Regions from separate parts of the Homo sapiens genome. Here region 2 is reported to be linked to region 1. Evidence: microRNA targets listed by miRTarBase, many of them from high-throughput screens and not tested one by one. Region 1 holds a microRNA gene; the other region holds the end of a gene's coding sequence.
The links. The annotated mature microRNA hsa-miR-4704-5p reads GACACUAGGCAUGUGAGUGAUU and lies in region 1 at 2,331-2,352, shown strand. An mRNA with a match to its seed (bases 2 to 7 or 8) in the 3' UTR can be bound and repressed. Matches are read on the target gene's strand: a 7mer-m8 pairs with bases 2 to 8, a 7mer-A1 pairs with bases 2 to 7 and ends in A, and an 8mer does both.

Region 1 (5,077 bases):
CTCAAATGATCCTTCCACCTCATCCAGCCAAGCAGCTGGAACTACAGGTATGTACCATCAAGTCTTGCTATATTGCTGGGATTGAACTCCTGGCCTCAAGCAATTCTCCCAGCTCAGTCTCTCAAAGGGCTGAGATGATGAGCATATGGCACCACAACCAGCCAATATTTCTCGTTAGGTCTCAAGCAGTCATTGAATATCTGCATCCATTCTGCTTCTCTAAAAACTTCTTTACACATCCCTTTTTGATTTTACTATTTGACATCTCTAAAATCTCTTTCTTTTTAAGAGCCAAATCAATAAATGAAGAGACTAATTTCACTGTCAATGCCTTGTCGTTCTTCACTTAGGAGAAATAGGGTAAAAGCAAAACCTCATTACACTACTTTTCTCAATCAAAAACTTTATCAACTTCAGGTTTCCATTCTTACTAATACCAAGAATCAAGAAAACATTCATTTGTTCTTAACTTAACTAGCTCAAATTCTCAGGAAGATGTGTTGGCTACCAACTTGGATTTGTCTTGATAGTAGAATGTGTGGTTCAAGTTAGAGAGTACACGAGAAAATCCAGGGTCAACTGGTTATTTAAAAAATTCTCACTAAAGAGTTTAGTGTCAGAAGAAATGATTTATCAGACTCTGGAACACAGAAAGAAGTACCTAAGAAGAAAAACACCCAACCTCACTAATATGATTTTCATTCTGTGCACAAATAGGTTATTGCTTTGAAACAGGTCAGAGTCTTGAGCTCCAAACAAAGTGGAGCTGTGACTGTGAAGAGTGTGTGTTGATGGGTGCAGAGGTAATGAGATTGCAAACTCAGAAGAAAAGCAAAAGAAAAACAAAAATGAAGAAATCTTGGACTGATGCCTATTTTTTTCTTTCTGTAACTGCGGCCCTTTTTGGAGGAGTTCTAACGATGGGTTAAACCACAAGGAGAAAATTAAACTTCTCTTAAATGTAGTTAAAATCCCTAGAGAGACATGAGTTTGTCACGACTGCCTGAGAAGATATTGGCTGGGATTAAATATTGAATGTGTCTGCCAACAATGACTGCCTGACGTGACACACGAGAGTTTCTCAGTGAGGAAAAAAAAGACCATGTAAGAGTACATGGATTTTATATTTTTCTGTGACTTAGATGTTGGTACCATTTATTAGACGAAAAGAAAAGTGCTGGAGCAGTTGGGGATTTTAAGAAACTACAATTATTGAAATAAGAGCTAAGTGTGATAGGAGGTAAAACCAACTGGGGATATGTAAGAGGTTTGCTGATAAATGTTTAGGGCAGTGGGGAAATAGGATTCCATAGATCCTTTACTGCCAGCAACCTGGTTACATGCTTTTTCTTGATCATAGATAAATAACTTAACTGTAGAAGGTAAGAAGACAAATGGAAGGAGTTAACAGATATTTGAAGATATGCAGATGGTGGGAGAAAGTTCAATGGTAATTGAGAATTGGTTCGCTGACAAGAGGGTTTTCCATAAGAAATAGTCTCTCTATTGGTTTAGAAAAAGTGTAGGACATTAGTAATAAGCTTTTGAATCTCCAAATTATGCCCAATAAATATTCGAATTAGAGTTGCTTCCAGACAGAGATGCCATTCATTTGGGAAGTTTCCCACCCCCCTTCAAATTTCTGAATGGGACAATAGAGGTAGAACCCAGACAACTGGGACATCTTCATAAAATATTCTTGAACATTCATGAGTTGAGTTTAGTGCTATTTGGAAGGAAACTGGTAAGCCTGAGAAAGGCACTAAATTGATAATGAAACACTAAAAAATAGCTTATAATTTGGTGGCATTAATAATTTCAGGTACTCTTTTATGTTTATCTACATTATACCATTTAATAGTCAGAATATACCTATGAAGTAGGTACTATTATTATTATCATTCTACAGATAAGGCAGATAAGGAGATTGAGACACAGAGATATTAAGACTCATACTTAAAGTCACACAAGCAAACGTTAGAACCTGGACTTCAGAGATCTGGCCAGGATCCTGTTCAGTACTTTCGATGTTACTCTAATTCTTCTCTAATTTGGGTTTGCTTCATGAATGTTTCTATATGCTGACATCTTTAAACTTCTGTTTTCTTATCTTTAAAGTTGGAAAAATATTTTATATTTTTTCTGATTATCTCTTGCTCCATAGTAAATTACCCTAAAACAGTAGCTTAAAACAATACCTTTAATTGATTTCATTCACACATTTTTTTCTGCCAAGCCTCGGGCAGCAGTCTTTCTCGAGTCTTTTCTATGGTTGTAGTCAGTTGGTGGCTGGGACTGGAGTCATCTTAAGGATGAATCTTCTTATCCTAGACACTAGGCATGTGAGTGATTGTCTTCCTCACTCAATCAGTCACATATCTAGTGTCTAGAATGAGAAGACTCAAACATCTGGGGGCTAGAACACCTCTTGTCTCTTGATCATCTCTCTGTGTGATCTCACCATGTGTATATGTGATCTCCAGCTGGCCTCTCTAACACATAGTAACTTCAATGAAACCAGACTTCTTATATTGTAGCTTAGGGTTTCAAAACCCAAGACAAAAAGAGCCAGGTAGAAACTGTATTGACTCAAATAACCTAACCTGAAAAGTCCTGTAGTGTCACTAAATTGTACTCTATTCCTTAGACAATTCACTAAGGTCAGTCCATATTCAAGAGGAGGGGAGTTAGACTAACATCTTGAGTGTGGTAGGCTAAATAATGCCTCCCACCCCCCACAAAAGATGCCACTTTCTAATCTCAGAGATCTATGCTATGCTTTACATGGCAAAGGAAACTTTGCAGATATGATTAAGTTAAGGATCTTGAGATGGAGAGATTATCCTGGATAATCCAGGCAGGCTTAATGTAATCACAAAAGGTTCTAATAAGAGAGAGCAGGAGAGTCAGAGTCAGAGAAGGAGATGAGATGACAAAAGCTGAGGTCAGAGTGAGGCCAAGCCCAGGCAAGGCAGCCTCTAGAAGCTGGAAAAGGCAAGGAAACAGATTCTCAACTCAAGCCTCTGGAAGGCTGGAGCCCTTATTTGATTTTTGATCCATTTTGGACTTCTAAATTCAGGAAATGTGAGATATTAAATTTGTGTTGCTTTAAGCCATTTACTTGGTGGTCATTTATCACAGCATCAATAGAAAACAAATACAAGAAGTATCAACTAATTTGTGGGTAGATTTTAAGACTATCACATCTATCATCCTCTTTGATTGGTTGTTCACTAAAAACCCTGTATTATGTGTCTTTCATGTGCTAGCATTGGGTTATATCCCTAAGGATTTAAAGATAAATTAAACATGATTCTTTTCCCCATTATGCTCATAGACAGTATTTATGGAAGGACTTTGTGCAACTCTAAAGGGTAATATAAATGTAATATATTGTGAGTCACTTCCAAAGTTTAATATGCAACCCAACCATTCCTTAATTTACTAAATCGTAAATCAGAATCAATATTTCAACAGATTGGAATTATGCATATATTATGAGTAAATTGCAAACAAATACAGAAGATAATTTGAAAATTAAATGTCAACAGGATTTGCAATAGACATTTACCATGTCTCAAAGTAAGAAAACCTGTTAGAATAAGTATACTGTGGGCAATCTCAGTGTTACAAGGCTGCTAATGAGCCTCTAGTACACTAAGAGACAGCCCCTAGGGATGAAAGGGGAGGATGGCTTATTCTTTCACTGAACTCTTAACTGAGGCAGCTAACAAGGTGCCCAACTGTGATTTAGACACATATCCAGTAGAAACTGGAGATAGAGTGTTAATTTAGTTTGTAAGGGTCACTGAACTAATTCCATTAGGTGACAACTTATGGTCACTACTGATAGGAACAAGAATACAAACCCGAAGCCAAAAAAGAGGGAGAAGAATTTCTTGAACAATCTCACTTACCAGGAAAAGCAATGAGAAAAGAAGCAGTCACTCAACTGAGATGCCTATTTTTGTTATGATATTTAGGTCCTGGAACACCTTTCCACACATGACAGTCACAAACAAAAATATGTAGTGTGACTAGAATATATAAACAAGGTCATGAAAATAAAGTTGATATCCACTAAGCCTTTTTTTAGAGAGCTACATCCACTTCAATCCTTGAAGAAAGTTGTCTGTTCAAAGGATAACAACTCGCAGGGTTAGATGTTAAGAAAGGGGAGTTATCAAGGAAGCTTACAGAAGGGATATTCAGTGGTCTGTCTTGGGTACTGGTGGGCTCTCTTTCCATAGCACAGCTGCCGGCAGCTGGCCAGCACCTCAGGCAGGCAGCTGGTAGGGGAAGAGTGGCCTCTGCCAGCTGGCACTAAAAAATTAAAATTAAAATTAAGGGAAAAAAAAACCCACCCTGAGGCACAGATGCATAACAATCAAGCATTCAGTTTCTGGTGTTCTCCCTTATTCTTCAGTCCTTAGGGAAGCCCAGCAGTGAGGTAGCTCCTCTCTCCCCAACCCAAGGTCCCCAGGCTGCTTTTCTCTGGTTTAGATTCCCTTTTTGGAGGTTTCTCTGTGTTCATGCATCCAAAACACAGTTCTTGAATCATAGCATGTGCCAAGCAATGTGCTAAGGGCTGAGGATGGAAATATAGAAATGAATTACATTTCCTTACTTCCATCAAGGTGCAAATTAAAAGGGCTATAGCTGATTTTTAAATGCCCATAAATAACGACAGAAAGTTGGATGACCATAGTGCTTACGAAACATAGAAGAGAGCCCACAGTGGATGAAGCAAGACAAGTATCACATCAAAAAAGAATAAGAATTAAGGCTTTCTCAGCTGAACAAATGGGAATAGCCTCTTTAAAAGGAATGAACATGAGGAAATAATGGAGGCATAAAATGGAAATTGAATTTTAAAATGTTACTGTACTGTTAGAGTACAGTCTGAGCTGCTACAACAAAAAGACCAAAAACTATAGAAGCTTTGAAATGTCATATATCTCTCTTTGATGGTATGTTTCAGCCAGATATGGCTCATAGGACAGCCCTGTCATCCTCAGTATGCAGTTTCTAGCTTCTGGATTACAGAAGTTGCTTGAGCTCTTGCAATCATTCCTAT
Region 2 (5,073 bases), not on the chromosome of region 1:
TAAAAATCATTCATTTTAATTTAGATCACTCCCTTGATGGACCCCTTACAAATGGTGATGGCAGAGAGCCCCGGACAGGAATCAAGAGAAAACTACTTAGTGCATCAGAAGAAGATGAAAACATGGGAGGAGAAGATAAAGAGAAAAAAGAAACAAAAGAGAAATCTCATTTATCCACCTCAGAGAGTGGAGAGTTAGGATCCAGTTTAAGTTCTGAAAGTACCTGTGGTTCTGACTCTGACTCTGAATCAACTTCCAGAACAGATCAAGATTACGTAGATGGAGACCATGATTATAGCAAATTCATACAAACCAGACCTAAAAGAAAACTCAGAAAGCAACATGGCAATGGAAAAAGAAATTGGAAGACCAGAGGCACAGGAGGAAGAGGCAGATGGGGAAGATGGGGTAGATGGAGTAGAGGAGGCAGAGGAAGAGGAGGCAGGGGACGAGGGAGTCGAGGAAGAGGTGGAGGTGGCACTAGGGGGAGGGGAAGAGGGAGAGGAGGAAGAGGTGCTTCTAGAGGAGCTACCAGAGCCAAACGAGCACGTATTGCAGATGATGAATTTGATACCATGTTTTCAGGACGTTTCAGTAGACTGCCTCGAATTAAAACAAGAAACCAAGGCAGGAGGACTGTTTTATATAATGATGATTCTGATAATGACAATTTTGTGTCCACTGAGGATCCTCTGAATCTTGGTACATCCAGATCAGGCAGAGTGCGTAAAATGACAGAAAAAGCCAGGGTTAGCCATCTCATGGGATGGAATTATTAACAGTTAATAAATTTAGAATAACTTAAAAAATTCAATGGCCTTCTACTGCAGGGAATTTACCAGGAAATCTACAAAGCAAGTTGTGTGGGGACTTCTGCTTCCTTTCACATTGGTGCTTTTCCATTTATGCCAGTATACATTTGTTTCAAGACTTTTGATCTCCACACTTCATTTGTTCAAATAAGCCTTACTCATTAGGCCTTAAATTAAAAGAAATTCTGCCCACACACACACAAACACATACACACACATACACACACACAGACACACACACACGAAACACAACACAGACACTACAGATTTACTACATTAAAGGAGCATTCAGCTTCTTAAGAGTAGCATGACATTTTTATCTCAATAGAATAGCCCTCTTTTGCTTTTGTATCACAGAAGTATAGCACCTTCTTACAGAGTTTTATATAGTTTGTTTTTGCCATTTTGATTCCTATACCCAGTAATAATAACTTTTGCACAATACACCAATCCTAAAGGCAGCTATTAAATGTTTACAGTTTCTATATTGTAAGAGCGATCTGGATTATTTTACTCTTCCCAGGCCAAACTTTCATGACTTGTACTGAACTGAAGTATATATTTATACTACAGTTTTTTGGGGGGTGGGGGGATCTTGATATGCTTTTCATTGATTTGCATAATTCACGTTAAAGGTGAGAAAGGGTTGGTGCCTTGTAAATATGTAGCAGATCTTCGTGGTGTGTTCTGATGTGTGCATTAACTTTATTAAAAAAGAATACTTGAGGTATCAATCTAGACAAGGTGCCAAATGCAAAAGTTTCCCGCATCAATTTTTTTCCTATCACATTTTATTGCATTAATAGAATTTGTGTAGCTTAAATAACTTAAACATTTGAAAAATCCTCATCCACAAAGAACAACTTCTTTGAACAGTAGCTCAGCTACCTCTTAACTACAACTACTGGAAACATTAAGGAAAATAGATGCTGTTATTCCTTACTGACTAAGGAGAAATAGAACAAGCTTAGTAGGAATGAATACCCCATAAGTTATAAGCTGAGAGGTTGTTAATAATTGTATTGGCTCTCAAATTAATAATTGTAATTAACAAAGTTTCATAAATATAGTATGCTCTACCACCTTAGGCTTTCTTAGAACATATTTGTGTAAGTAGACTTGGGCTACTGCTTATATATTTCTGCTCCACTTACCATTTAACAGCTGTGAGTTGCTGGTTTTCATTTGAATCTTAAAATTTAACAAAGCACCTGGTTTGATTTGGAATGTTTTGGCTAGCTAGTATTATGAATCAACTTATAGATTCTGCTCATATCATTCCAAAGGGTTCTTCTGTTCTAGTCTTTCAGGAAAGAACCTTATTGCACTGCACACTCATGTTGTGAATCATTATTTTATAGATAAAAAACATCTTTAAAAACCCTTATTGTCTTGTTTACAGCAGTAGAGTGCACATGGTTCCATAAGTGAGCTTGAGTTCCAAGGTCAGTTTTACTCCCCAAATTTAATATTACAGATTTGTTCATTTGTTAGATACTTACATTTCTGAGGTAAGAGGGATAATAGCAATTTCTGTTTCTGTAACAGCAAATTTGTTGCACTTAGATCAGGCTCATGGGATAAAACAGACTTCTTAGTATATACCTAGCTATCCCAGGATATTTCTTAAGCTAATGTGTTTGTCTCATGCTTTCAATCATTTCATGCATCTGAAAACCCTTAAGTGCAGAGGAAGGCGTACACACATAAAACTTTGCTTTTTTGGTAGGGTCGGCAGTAGGGTTATTCTTGGACTAACATCTTTAAGCAGTTTTCACTTGCAGTGGAAATGATGTTCAGGCTTTAAGAGAAAGTATTGTGAATTGTTAATGGCACTAACTTCTGTTACTAGACAGCAGACCAAGCTATTTTTTTGTTGTAGTCTTTTTTTCACTAAACCAAAACTACTTCTGGTTGTAACTCAGCTGCCACTTTAAACCATAGTAGAGATTCAAAACGTTCCTATTTGAAACTACATTTGATTTTTGCTAAAATGTGCTGTTTCGGTTATTTATCTCTTGGGCATTTAGACTAAATTGTGCCTGTATTCCTGAAATCAATAATACTTTGGCTTATCCTGATCTAAGTAACATAGTTACTTAAATTCCTGGATATACCCAAATATGGATCACATGTATCATTTTAGTTTGAAATTTTTTGTTGACATTCTTCTATGAAGAGCTGACCTCTTGAAATGTAGAAGAATTGACATTTGTGTGATTTTGGCTATCTGGAGCTTTATTTATAATTTATTTTGAAAAATAAAAATGCCACATTTATTTCCCAAATGTCAAGATTTTCTAGAATTAGATAATTAGAATAATAAGGCTGAAGACATTTTAAAGCATATTTTATATGTAGTGAAATACTGTGAAAATATTAGTGAACAGCATTTTGCTGTAATGTTTATTTCAGTTATTAAGATTTAAAGAGTTAGTCATCAGGGTATGTTAGATAAACATAGTTATCATTTATTAAACAAACAGATAATTTTCTGTTTGCATGCAAATTATTTTAATAAGTGTGAAAATAAAAGTTTGGAAGATAGTATTTTTACTTTTATATCTGGACTTTTTTTTCCCCCAATTTACACTTTGCTTTCTTGTAATACCACCTCCTGTGAATGTGTTGTAATTAGTATCACATTGATTACTTTATCATTTTAATTTCTTTGAGGCCCTTTAAACCTACGTAAAATCTGGGTCCAGCCATAGCAAAGCAAGTACAAAATGAACAAAGAATTTTGAAGAAAAGCCTAAATCTTAAATTGCTAAGAAAAAACACTGTTATATTTAGGCCCGTGAGAGCATATACATGTATAAACCTAATCCTATGCTAGATATGAATAGTCAGTGAGCTGTAATATTTCTCATAAATGCTAATAATGTTTAAATTCCCAGCTTTAAGATCTTAGTGTGTGTATATATTTATAAAATCTGAATTGTGTGTTTCTTCTATGGCTTACTGTGTGTTTCTCTTTCAGCAATAGGATGCTCTCTAAAACATTCACTAGCCTACTAGCCTACTTACTAAATTTTTGTATATGTGTGTTTGTGCACTTGTATGTGTGTAAAGTTTTTTCCCCAACTTGACACACCTTATCTCAGACATTCAAAAAAAGAGAACATTTTGTATGGAGGACAGTCTGCCAACTTTTTGCCTCTCTACAGCTCTTAGCCTGTATATTTACTGCTTGATCATTCATTATGCCTTCTAGATAACCAGTCCAGGTTTTGTCATATACCTGTGTCCCTCTATTCTTTTTATTTCCCTTTTTAATTTTTTTTCTTTTTTTTCCCTCCCCAGAAATCAGGCTTGTGTTGGAATTCTTCTCTATAATACTTTGTTTCCCGCAGATGCAAAGTAACAAAGTAACTGAGTAAAATTAGAAATCTCATTCTGCACAACTGTGCGCTCAGATATTTAACTCAGCCTTCTAATACTTTTAAGTACGTTTCTGTTATTTATCTTTTTGTTGTTTTTGTTTTAATCCCATAGATTGTCATCAGACAATAATAGAGTGATTGAGAGAGAAAGATATAAATGCCACTTCTAACTTTTTGATAAAACTTTTTTGAGCATTTTTCAAAAATTTGTATGTTTGTGGTAATGGGGAATTAAACACCTTTTACAGCTGATGTATGTTGGAAATCATTTTATGTACATTTACCAACTGGTACTTATCTTCAAGTTGGAATTTTCACATCCATAAAAGGGAGACTTGCATCATATATAATTTTCAGTATACTTTGCTGTCCAGCCTTTTAAACAATTACAGTAACATTTTGAGTTCTGTGATGAATAGTTCTAGGGGAAGGGATGGAACTTTCGACATGTAAAGTCCATTGTTTTAAATGCTAACCCCATCCCCAATATTTTTGTGGAACGTGAGGCTTTATGAAAGGTTTATCAGAAATAGAATATTCTAAAGTCACTTTTATGGCTTATTTCAAAAACTAGTGTGAAAGTATTTTCATGCTTTTTTGTTTCTCATCTTTTAGCAAAGCTTCTTTACCAAGTTTTGATTAAATTGCAATATAAAATTAAGTTTTTTCACGGTGCTATATTTTGTGGAATATGGGTAGCACTCAGGTTTCTTTCTTTTTTCTTTTCTCCTTCCTTCTTCCTTCATTCCTTCATTCCTCCCTCCCCCCTCCCTCCCTCCCTCTCTTCCTTCCCTCCTTCCTTCCTTCCTCACCTCGGCCTCCCAAAGTGCTGGGATTACAGGCATGAGCCACCGTGCCCGGCCTATATACCCTTA

Region 2: the mRNA of BRWD3 is a reported target of hsa-miR-4704-5p. Seed matches in the 3' UTR shown: 7mer-m8 at 4,769-4,775.

Annotation. Positions count from the first base shown.
Region 1 is chr13:66,215,929-66,221,005 of GRCh38, forward strand. It overlaps MIR4704 (microRNA 4704), which reads left to right and starts at 2,322; the gene lies at 2,322-2,396.
Region 2 is chrX:80,672,315-80,677,387 of GRCh38, reverse strand. BRWD3 (bromodomain and WD repeat domain containing 3) reads left to right here. Exons shown (of 41, transcript NM_153252.5): 41 at 25-5,073. The coding sequence ends at 779. Among named protein-coding and RNA genes, the nearest start is that of BRWD3, 140 kb to the left of the region's middle.